Linked DNA regions of Homo sapiens: region 1 is linked to region 2. The links come from fine-mapping of genetic effects on gene expression. A gene starts in region 2. The other region holds a variant in brackets. All regions are shown on one strand. Distances are between the middles of the regions. Region 1 has its middle 130 kb from the start of RPS6KA3. Region 2 holds the start of RPS6KA3 (ribosomal protein S6 kinase A3).

What was found. PIP is the estimated chance that this variant, and not a neighbour inherited with it, causes the effect.
Region 1: its variant is fine-mapped to the expression of RPS6KA3 in whole blood (TOPMed, PIP above 0.99).

Annotation. Positions count from the first base shown.
Region 1 is chrX:20,392,430-20,397,790 of GRCh38, forward strand. No RefSeq gene overlaps it. Among named protein-coding and RNA genes, the nearest start is that of RPS6KA3, 130 kb to the left of the region's middle. The variant T/C (reference allele first, on the strand shown) is at 2,137.
Region 2 is chrX:20,264,076-20,269,449 of GRCh38, forward strand. RPS6KA3 (ribosomal protein S6 kinase A3) reads right to left here and starts at 2,834. Exons shown (of 22, transcript NM_004586.3): 1 at 2,489-2,834. The coding sequence starts at 2,557. RefSeq lists an enhancer at 1,065-1,114 and silencers at 2,295-2,554, 2,675-2,894, 3,316-3,610.

The DNA.
Region 1 (5,361 bases), 130 kb after region 2:
CACAGAATATTTCATCAACCAGGTACTAAGCCTAGTAGCCATTCATTATTTTTTCTGCTCCTCTCCCTCCTCTTACCCTCTACCCTTCTTCGCCAAGTAGGCCCCAGTGTGCATTCTTCTCCTCTATGTGTCCATGTGTTCTCACAATTTAGCTCCCACTTACAAGTGAGAACGTGTGGTATTCGGTTTTCTGTTCCTGTGTTAGTTTGCTAAGGATGATGGCCTCCAGCTCCATCCATGTTCCCGCAGAAGACATGATCTCATTCTTTTTTAATGACTGTATAGTATTCCATGGTGTATAGGTACCATATTTTCTTTATCCAGTCTATTATTGATGGGCATTTAGGTTGATTCCATGTCTTTGCTATTGTGAATAGTGCCACAGTGAACATATGTGTGCATGTGTCTTTATGTAGAACAATTTATATTATTTTGGGTATACACCTGGTAATGGGGTTGCTGGGTCAAATGGTAGTTCTGTTTTTAGCCCTTTGAGGAATTGCCACACTGCTTTCCAGAATGGTTGAGCTAATTTACACTCCCACCAGCAGTGTATAAGTGATCCCTTTTCTCTGCAGCCTCACCAGCATCTGTTATCTTTTGACTTTTTAATAATAGTCTTTCTGACTGGTGTGAGATGGTATTTCATTGTGATTTTGATTTGCATTTTTCTTTTCTTTTTTTTTTTTTTTTTTGAGACGAAGTCTCGCTCTGTCACCCTGGCTGGAGTGCAGTGGCGCGATCTCAGCTCACTGCAAGCTCTGCCTCCCGGGTTCACGCCATTCTCCTGCCTCAGCCTCCAGAGTAGCTGGGACTACAGGCGCCCACCACTGCGTCCGGCTAATTTTTTGTATATATATATATTTTTTTAGTAGAGACGTGGTTTCACAGTGGTCTCGATCTCCTGACTTCGTGATCTGCCCGCCTCGGCCTCCCAAAGTGCTGGGATTACAGGCGTGAGCCACCGTGCCCAGCCTGATTTGCATTTTTCTAACGATCAGTGACGTTGAGCTTTTTTTTCATGTTTGTCGGCTGCATGTATGTCTTCTTTTGAGAAGTGTCTGTTTATGTCCTTTGCCTGCTTTTTAACGAGGTTGTGTGCTTTTTTCTTGTAAATTTGTTTAAGTTCCTTATAGATGCTGGATATTAGACTTTTGTCAGATGCATAATTTGCAAAAATTTTCTCCCATTCTGTAGGTTGTCTGTTTATTCTGTTGATAGTTTCCCTTGCCATGCAGAAGCTCTTTAGTTTAATTAGGTCCTAACAATAAAAAATTGGAAATTGAAATAAACAATATCATTTACAATATTGTCAAAAACGTGAAATATTTAGGTATAAATGTAACAAAATATGTGCAAGATTTTAATGCTGAACATTAGAAAACATTGCTGAGAAAAGCTAAAGACCTAAATAAATGGAGTGATATAGCACATTTATGGATTGGAAGACTCAATATTAAGATGCCAATTCCCTCTGATCTATAGATTTAATGCAATCCCAATAAAAATCCCTGCAGAGTGGTGGAAGTTTGGAAGTTTGGAAGTTGATTCAAAAATTTGTATTCATGTGCAAAAATACAGCATCAGCTTTGTTAGATAAAATAATGCCGGAAAACATTTATTGAATGTTTACTGTGTGCCAGGTATTGCTTCACATACTTTGAGTGTATTGAGAAATCTAGTTTTCACAACAATCCTCTGAGGAAAGAAAACAGTCTTATCCCAGTTTATTGATATACAAACAGAGCACACAGAGTGAGAGTAACTTGTTTGAGTTTATCAGCTTTTGGTTTGGAGAGTTTGCCATTGAACCCAGGCAATTGGAATCCAGAGTTCAGCCTTTTAATTACCTGTAATCACCAGTTTCTGTATCAACTAGCTATTGTTGCAACCAACCACAAAAATCTCAGTGGCAAATGATAATAAGCTTTAAGTTTCCACATGTCTGCAGGTTGGTGGGGGCAGCTTTACTGATTTCAGCTAGACTCAGCTGGGTAGCTCCAACTGTAGGGTGAGTTGAGGGTTTCTTCATATGTCTCTCATCCTTCTTGAATTATTGGCTTAATCATGGTCTGTTCTTCTCATGGCGATAAAAGAAGCAAGAAAGAGGGACTCCCATCAGAACTAAGGCCCACA[T/C]CAATCTGTCTCCTATTTTGGGCTTTAATTGCCCAAGTCAAGGGAGGGAAAAGTAGAAAACGGAAGGTCTCTTTTGCAAGGCAAGGAAGTCCCGCCCTGATGTGCTCATAATGGGGAAAAGAATGCAAGGCCTAGGAGCTCCTTCCATAGGCCGGCTGGATCAAGAAAGTCAGATGAAGAGGGGGGGCATTTCTGCTCACTGACATTTTTGCCACCTGAGGAAAGATGAATGGATGTCAGACTTCTGTCTGTATTCATGAAATGTCTCATGGAGGAGGGGAGTGTGGGGTGAAAGCTTCTGTCTACCCCTTCTACCGCTTCTGAGGAAGTGTTAGGAGAAGTTACTATGTAAGGGCCAAGGAGGCACAGAAAGAGAATAACCTTTTCTCGTATAGAAGGCAAGGACTGGGTTCTTTACATCTTAGTATCCCTCTTCTGACATGGAAGTTTCCTAAGAAGTGTAGTCGAACAATAAGTGAAATTCGCATTTTCCATTCTTGAAGAAGAACCTCCAAAATTTCCCTCTCTGAAACCTTACTTCCTGGGGGTTCCACTTGGCCTGGCAACAGAAACCGTGTTTGCTTTCTGAAGAGTATTTTGGCCATCTGTTTTGGTTGCCCTGAGTTACTCCAATATAGCCGCGAAGAAGCTTGTCCTGCTGAGGTTTATCACTGATTGCAAAACTAACCCTGGCTAGCAAAACTGGCAAATTCTGCTTAGTGAGTGTGTGTTTTTGTTGTGTGTATGATGTGTGTGTGTGTGTGTGTGTGTGTGTGTGTGTGTGTGTGTGTGTTTTGAGCAGAGTTTCCATAGAAAAAAAGAAAGGCAAGATGTTGCCCAGCTGTATTGTCCTGGCAGGACTTCTTCACATAATTCTCCTGGAAGTTTCTGCAATGTTTCTTTCCCTTCCTGTCTCCCTGTTTCTATAGAACTGTGAAGATTTACTGAGTCTCTCCAGCTGTAGCCTAAATTCCTCACTGAGACAGTTTCAGACTGCCTATTCTGAGGTGGGAAGGTGTAGGATGGGAGGTGGGGAGGCTTGTGCCCTTATTATATAAACTGATCATTATTGGAAGAAAAAAAGCTGAATCCCTCAGAAATGTTAAGACGTCTGCTTTGACCACACCCTCAGAAGCTAGCACTATTGCTCTGGGTTAAGGGCAATAGCATTTCTTGTAAGCCAGTTTTTAACCTCTTTTGAACCCTCAGCGGCACAGAATTTCAGGGCTTGACTACAGTGGATTCTATCTGAAATGGCCTTCAAGAATTGTTCCACAGAAATACATGGACAGAAATAGGTGTTCTTTGGTCAAATTCAGTGTGGGGAATTTTCAGTCTATATGACTCTTCCAAAAAAATAGTCCAGAAATATGTAAAATGATTTGAATTGTTCCCATTTAGTTCAAATTCTACTACTCTGTGAGCTCCTTAAGATCAAGAAATGTGCCTTGTGGTAATTCAGCACTTAACAGACACCTGGCAGAGATAATAAATGTGAGTGAATGAATGCATGAAATAATGAAATATCACATCCTCAATAAAGTTTTTTCCTCCCTGAAATAACTAGCATTTCTGGGAATTTTGTCATTAAAAAAGTTCCGCTTCAATTGCCAACTACTATATCATTTATAAAATTATTACTGCACAGAAATTATCTATTTCTGTGTAACAAACTACCCCCAAATTTAGTAGCTTCAAAATAATAACCATTTATTATTTCTCATGATTTTCAGGGTTGACTGGACTCAGCTGAGTAATTCTTCTGCTTCATGTGATATTGACTGGGCTGTAATCAACTAGGGGCTTGACCGGGCTGGGCATCACAATGGCTCACTAACATGGCAGATGGCTTCCAAAAGGGAGTGTCTTAAGTGTGACTATTTGAAGAGAGAGGAAACAAAAGTGGAAGCTGCCCAGTCCTCTTACAGGGTAGGCAAAGAATTGGCTCAGTACTATTTCTGCTGCCTTCTGTTGGTAAGCAGCCACGGAGCCATCCCTGATTCAAGGGGAGGGGAAATAAACTCCACCTTTTGAGGGGAGAGTGACAAATAATTTCTAGCCATCTTTAATTCACCCTATTGTCTATGTAATAATTGACATGGAGAATAAAACAATGGTAAGAGGCGAGAGTAAAGTAGGATGAGTGAAAAGATTGCATCAGGGGAGCGAACTAGTTAATTAGATTGGATGTTGGTAAACAATTAATCTGAATTAATTGAAAGCCGAGCCTGACATGAATATTGTAAAAGAGATTGCTGAAAAATCAATAAACATCTTTGAAGAATTATGGAAAGCAGGGATGTCCCAGAAATCTGGAGACAGGTAAATGTCATTGCCATTTTCAAAAATGTAAAGAAAGTGGAATCACTGCAAAATTTGATTTTGATTCCAAGCAAGATGCTAAAAGATATTATTAGAATGACTAGGTTCAGCTGGATGTGTTAGAAATCAAAATAACAAAAACATAAAATATGGAAGATTATTTTTCTCTCTGTGTAAATAAAACATAGATCACAAGGCTGATATGGTGGCTTCACGAAGTCATTGAGGACTCATGTTCTTTTTAGCTCATTATTCCACCAGCCCTATTTCTCACGGTCCAAAGTGATGGCTAGAGTTCCAATGAATGCATCTACATTCCAGAATTTTTTTTAAAAGTGGAGAAGGGGAAATCATCCATCTAATCTTTTAAAGAGGTTTTCTGGATGCTGCCGTACAACCTCTGCTTATATCTCATTGACTAAACCTTAATTTTGGGTGGCCATGTGCTACCCTAAGAGTTGGAAGTTTTATTACAGAGAAGGGCAGGATGGATTTTAGGGTAGGCAACTAATAGTATCTGCTCCAGATGCTTTGTCCCTTCTGGTAGAATCCAGCATGCATTTTCTAAGAAATCATGGCAGAAATGCTAAGCTTTTAAGGCTGGAAATGTAGTTCCCCCTCCTCTCTGGGTTTTAGTAAATGGCATATGAAAGTGCATTGTGTATCAGACCATCTTATCCTCCTCTTCAGATTCTCTCAGCCTCATTTGTCTCCTGGACCCTCTGTTATTTGTGTTGCCATGGCAATCGTCTCTGTATAGGCCTAAGTGGTCTTTTTCTTGAGCCTGGAGCCCAGACTCTTGGCTCCTCTCACCATATCCCAACTCAAATACAACCCCAGGGTGTGGGATCTGGTATTCCCAGTGACTGTCAGAGAACTCAGGTGATGCAACAGGAAAGTGCA
Region 2 (5,374 bases):
TTCCCTCACTGTCTTCAATATTTCCAAATTGTATCAGAAGTAATTTACTTGAAATAGCTGAACAAGCAAAGGAAATTAAATATCTAAAGGCAATTTGTTAGAATTTAATTTTAATAAATCTTGGCAACACTGGCTCTGTTTGACATACTTTATGCCAGGATAGCAAGAAAATTCTTTGAAAACAGCAAATTGTGGAATCCTATCTGTCAAGTTCTGGAAAACATGATAGTAACTGAAATAACAAGGCTTTACCAAATGAGACCTCTTATAATACTCTATTTGTTTCTGGAAAATAGATGACCTCTAACTACTGGCTTATTTATACCCCGAATTTTTCCACAAAAGATTTGGAACAGCTACCCTGATATAAAACGAAGCACATGAATTGTATCCACCTGGCTTTGAATTATGGCTCTGCCATTTACTATTTATCATCTTTGTACCTTTTAAATTCTGAGATTTGGTTTCCTAATCTATAACAATGGGGACCATAATCCTACCCTGCTGGGTCACAGGAAGGATAAAATGAAATAGTAATGTAGCACAGTACCTGGCATACAGTTGGTGCTAAATAAATATGTTTTGTCCTTCCTTATCCAAATGCATTCCAGATAGAAAAAGGATAAGGTGGAATTCTAAACGATATTGTTTTCCTATCACACTGATACATGCCAAGCAGAAATGTGGACTGATCTTGAGTTGCAATTGTTAATGTTTGTATGTAAAAGTCAGGCTCAAAGCAAATTTAATTTCTTTCCACAAGTTCAGTACTTTGCGAACATTTTATTAACCTTTTAGCTATATTATTTAATGCAAAAAATTTTCTGGGGAAAAATATGACGAGCTCTTGCATACTGTTTTTCACACTACCCATCTAAAGGATTATTAAACATCATAAATTTGGCTTTTTAATAAAATATTTATAGTATTAGTCTGGTTAACAATTTTAAATAAAGTTCTTGTGATTCTGCCAGTCTTAAAAACATGATTTCCTTTCTTTCTTTCCTTTTCTTTCAACATATATCAATGTCTTTTCCATTGAAGAGCAGCATTTAGTTCAGGTTTTACAAGTATGATCCAAGTCGCAAAATACTAAGCACCAATCATAAGCACTATTACAACTCTGCGTGCGTTAAGGAGAACAAGCAAAATTGTTATACAGCAGCGGAGGTGACTGGGGGAAAAAGTGAAAAGCGATTTGAACTGATCCCCCGCCCTCTCCATTATACCGGAGAATGCAAGTGTCCCGCATCTCAAGATTAAACTGAGCCTCGGTTTTACTGACGTAACCAGTAACCCTATCTACTTCTCACACTGCGGAGGCCGGCAGGGCAGCGGCTGCCGCCAAGCACACCACTCATCAGAGCCTGCCCCGTTCCACCCCCGCGTTTCAGTCATGCTTTCCAGAAATGGGGTCACTCACTCAGTAACTATTACACACACGCAGCCTATCATCCTGTAATCCCCTAAAGTCCGCTGCGGGGAGAGAAGGCAGCAAAAAGTCAAGAAGGAAGAATCACAGACGCGCCACCATCAGGAATTGATTTTCCACTCCGGAGAGGAGCGGTGATACCTTGGAACGGGTCTTGTCTGGATTATTTTCGCAGACCCCGAGTTGTTCTGGGATAGGGGCGGTTCAGGAAAGCTCGGTGTAGTGATGCGCCCGGGGAAATTCTGTTTTGCCCTGTTTGGGTATATTGTTTGGGTTTTGGGCACTAGGATGGGTGACTCAGGGACGGTCACCAGATCCCGGGCGAGGAAAACCAGAAAGCCTTTTACGGCGGCCGCTGATCTCCTTGAATATCACCCTCTCACCTCCATGGACAGGAAACTCAAGTTAAACTCACAGGGACGGGGGTCTAGCTCTGCGACCTCAGAAACGGAGGGGGTAGGGGACCTTAGGCTTCCGCTTTCTTCTTTGCAGCAGCAGAAACCGCTGCGGCAGACGAGGGGGAGGCAAAACCCTGCACCCCCTACCCGAAACCCCCACAGGTCGCCGCCGCCCGTGCCCCGCGCGCCGGTCTCCCCGCAGCAGCCCCTCCCTCGGCTGGACTCGAGAGTCCCTGCTCCCCGGTGAACCCGATCCCTACCCCTCCCTCATCTCCCAAAGTCGCCAAGGTCCGGGAAAGCCCCCGACCCGGCTGGGCCAAACTTCCCAACTCCCCGCCGGCCCCCGCTCCGCCTCCCGCTTCCCCCACGCAAAGTTGATTAAAATTGGCTTCTTGCAAAGCCCCAGCGCCCACTCCAAACCCCACGCGCCACCACACTGGCAGCCCCCCGAGCGAGGGAAGGAGGTGAGGGTGAGGATGGAAGGAACAGACAGACCGGCCAATAGACCCACCCCAACAACCCAAACCAAAACCCTGAGCCCGGGGGAAAGACGCGAGCGGGATCAGAACGGGCCGAGTGGCCAGCTCCGGGGAGCGAAGCGAGCCGGCGGGGGCGCGAGGAGGAGATGCGCCGGCCCCGGCCGCCCTGCTGCACTCACCTCAGCGCTGTCGGACGGGCTCTCCACAGCCATCTTCTGCCACGGGTCCGCCAGCTGCGCCAGCGGCATCTTCCCCCCCGGCCCGCCGCCTTCACCGCCTCCTCCCTCCCCGCCCGCCCCACGGCCGGCCCCGCTCCGTCGCCGCCCGAGCCCCACGGCAGCGGCGGCGGCGGCGGCGGCGGCGGCAGCGGCAGCGGCAGCGGCAGCAGCAGCAGCAGCGGCGGCGGCCCCAGAGAGGGCTCGACGCCGACGCCGACCGCCCGAAAGCCGCGCGCCTGGCCAGAGACGCCCGCGCGCTGAGCGAGAGCCTCGCGCCTCCGCTGGGCACCGGGTCTCGCCCCTTTCTTCCTCTCCTCCTTCCGCCGCCGGGACTACGGCTCCGCCCCCCCCGCCGGTTCCCGCGCCCGCTCCCAGCAGAACAGCGACCGCCGCGCGCTCCCCCACTTCCGCTCACAACATGGCGCCTAAGCGATACCTGTCTCTCAAAGCGAGGCTCGGCCGCCGCCACCACCGCCGCGCGCACCCAGGGGCTGGGCTAGTGGAAGACACGCCCCCGGCCGCTGCGCTCCGCTCCTCCCTCTTCCCACCCCCCTCCTTCTGCGCCCCAACCTCAGCTTCTGGGCCTCGCCTACTTTCAGGAAGGGCGAGCCCAACAGATCTGGGGGCGTCGGCGGGAGGCGGGGGAAAGAAATGGGAAAGGCAGGAGGGGCGAAGGCTGGGAGCCTTTCACCGCCAAGGGTCCAAGGAGGTCGGAGGCTCCTTGGGAATGAGGGAGAACAGTGGTCCCCGCCCAGCTGGGGAGGGAGGTGGGCAAAGTACCGGGGGCGCAGTCCCGAGCCAAGGACCCGGGGAGGGGTGCGGAGTGTCTTTTCGGCTTGTCTCCTCCGGGGGTGCGTGCGTGCGGACGCGCCTAGTCTCTGGGCGCATCCCGTAATGGCCCAAGACCCTCCCTCTTCAGGGTCACATGCTGGGAAATCACCTGCCCCCCATCTCCCCCGACGGAGGCAAGGGAGGCTTCGTGCCTAGGAGCCTCCTGGGGGCTCGGCTCCCGGTTTGATTCAAGTCTTTTCAAGTTGACGCTCTTTTGTTAAATTGTGGCTATTTGGGATTAATTCCTCTTGTATTAGTCGCTTCCCCCGCACCGCCCCCAGCCCAAATTCTCCTCCCCAAGTGCGCAGAGCTCTCGGCCTTCAGCTGCGACCCTGGAACCGCTGCCCCCCGCCCCACGTCTGCTACCTAAATCTTCAAGAGGGGAAAACAGGGAGGTTCCTTAAGGCTGTCCCTCTCGGTAGAGGTTGGAGAATTATTTAAAAATATCTTGTAGGCAGGAGCGCGGGGTTCCTGCTCCTCTGTTGACTTTAAATAAGAGATTAGATTTAAAAATCAGGCTGGCCGTGGGCGGAGGAGGAGGAGGAGGGGGACAGAGGGAGGGGAGGGGTTCTGACTCCTCCTCCTGCCCAAGATGGGGAAGCCCTGGATTAAGGAAACCCAATGCCCCGACGGCGACGGAGCCCCACAGGACGGCGAGAGCTTTGGGGGGAAGGCCTGGGCGTCCGGGGTGCGTCCCAAGAGGACTCGACCCTGTGTTCACTGCGCCAGGAGCCGCTGCGCGCTAAGTGCGCCCGGGCAGAAATGTGTAAAAGTCGCAGGGCTGAGTGGAAAGCTACTGCAGCCCCTGGCTAGTCGCCCAGCGAGGGGAAGAGAAAAAGCAAAGGGAGATCTCCGAGCCGGCCTGTCCCTTCAAACCCTCAGGCCGTGGCCCAGGCATCCCGGTCTTCCCACGCCCAGCGACCACGGCGCGTCCGCTGCTGCGCTCCCAGCGCACGCCTATTAACAGCTTCCTTTCATCCTCCCGGGACCCAGACACCTGGAGAACCCTCGCCTGCCTCCCTAAGCAGGTGTGAGGATGAGATTAGAGCCCCAAACCCAGCCGGCCAGGTCTGCGCGGGCGGTGCGAGGTTTCTCGCTGGGCCTGCGAGAGGCAGGTGTTGGGCTCTTTCTGCTGCCTTCGCCAGCGCGCCCCTTGGCACAGGCTCGAGGCCGGGGAACCTCGTGGCCATTTAGGGAGGCTCCAACTGTTTAGGGAGCCTGAGAAGGCGGCAGGAAGTCCTCGTTGCGCGCCTTCTCCCGAAGCTTTGGACTCAGGGGGACCGCTCAGGTTGGACAACATCTGGGCAGACTCAACGTGGTCTGGGGAAGAAGGCGAATGGGGCCACTTGGCTCTTGCCTTTGTCACTTCCCTTCACATGCTATATTCAGGTGTTGCAAATCCAACCTGGGCCCAAACTCAGCTAATTTGGCAGCACCTTCTCTGTGTAATTCCCGACGGTAAAACGTGCTTGCAGAAGTTTGGAGGATAAGGAGTTGTGTACTATTTTGCATTTATGTACAAAATGCTTTATTCATTTACATTGCAGAGTCACATGACCACTCCTTATAGCGAAAAGAAGTTCGTTAATTCGGTTGGCTTAAAGTAAATTAGCTCCCCCTACCCTTTGATCAATTATTTCAGTTAACATTCTTGCATTAGTAAAAACATACATAGTTGAAGAGAGACCGTTATGTGGCTAACACTGTTCAGTGCTAATTACCCCCACGCAAAGAATGAATATTTTAAAATAAAGCAAATTGTATGCCATTTTCAGTATCAACTTTTATTCATCTCTGTTAACCTTGAGAACCAGAGGAATAACTTTTAAAACAGAGTTACCTGATCTGTAAAAGTAATGTGAGCGGTGGTCACGTTTCAGTGAATTAAGCATTACATGAACTGTTAATAATGGGTTAAAGTGGCCGGGTGCGGTGGCTCACCCCTGTAATCCCAGCACTTTGGGAGGCCCAGGTGGGCGGATTACCTGAGCTCAGGAGTTCCAGACTAGCCTGGCC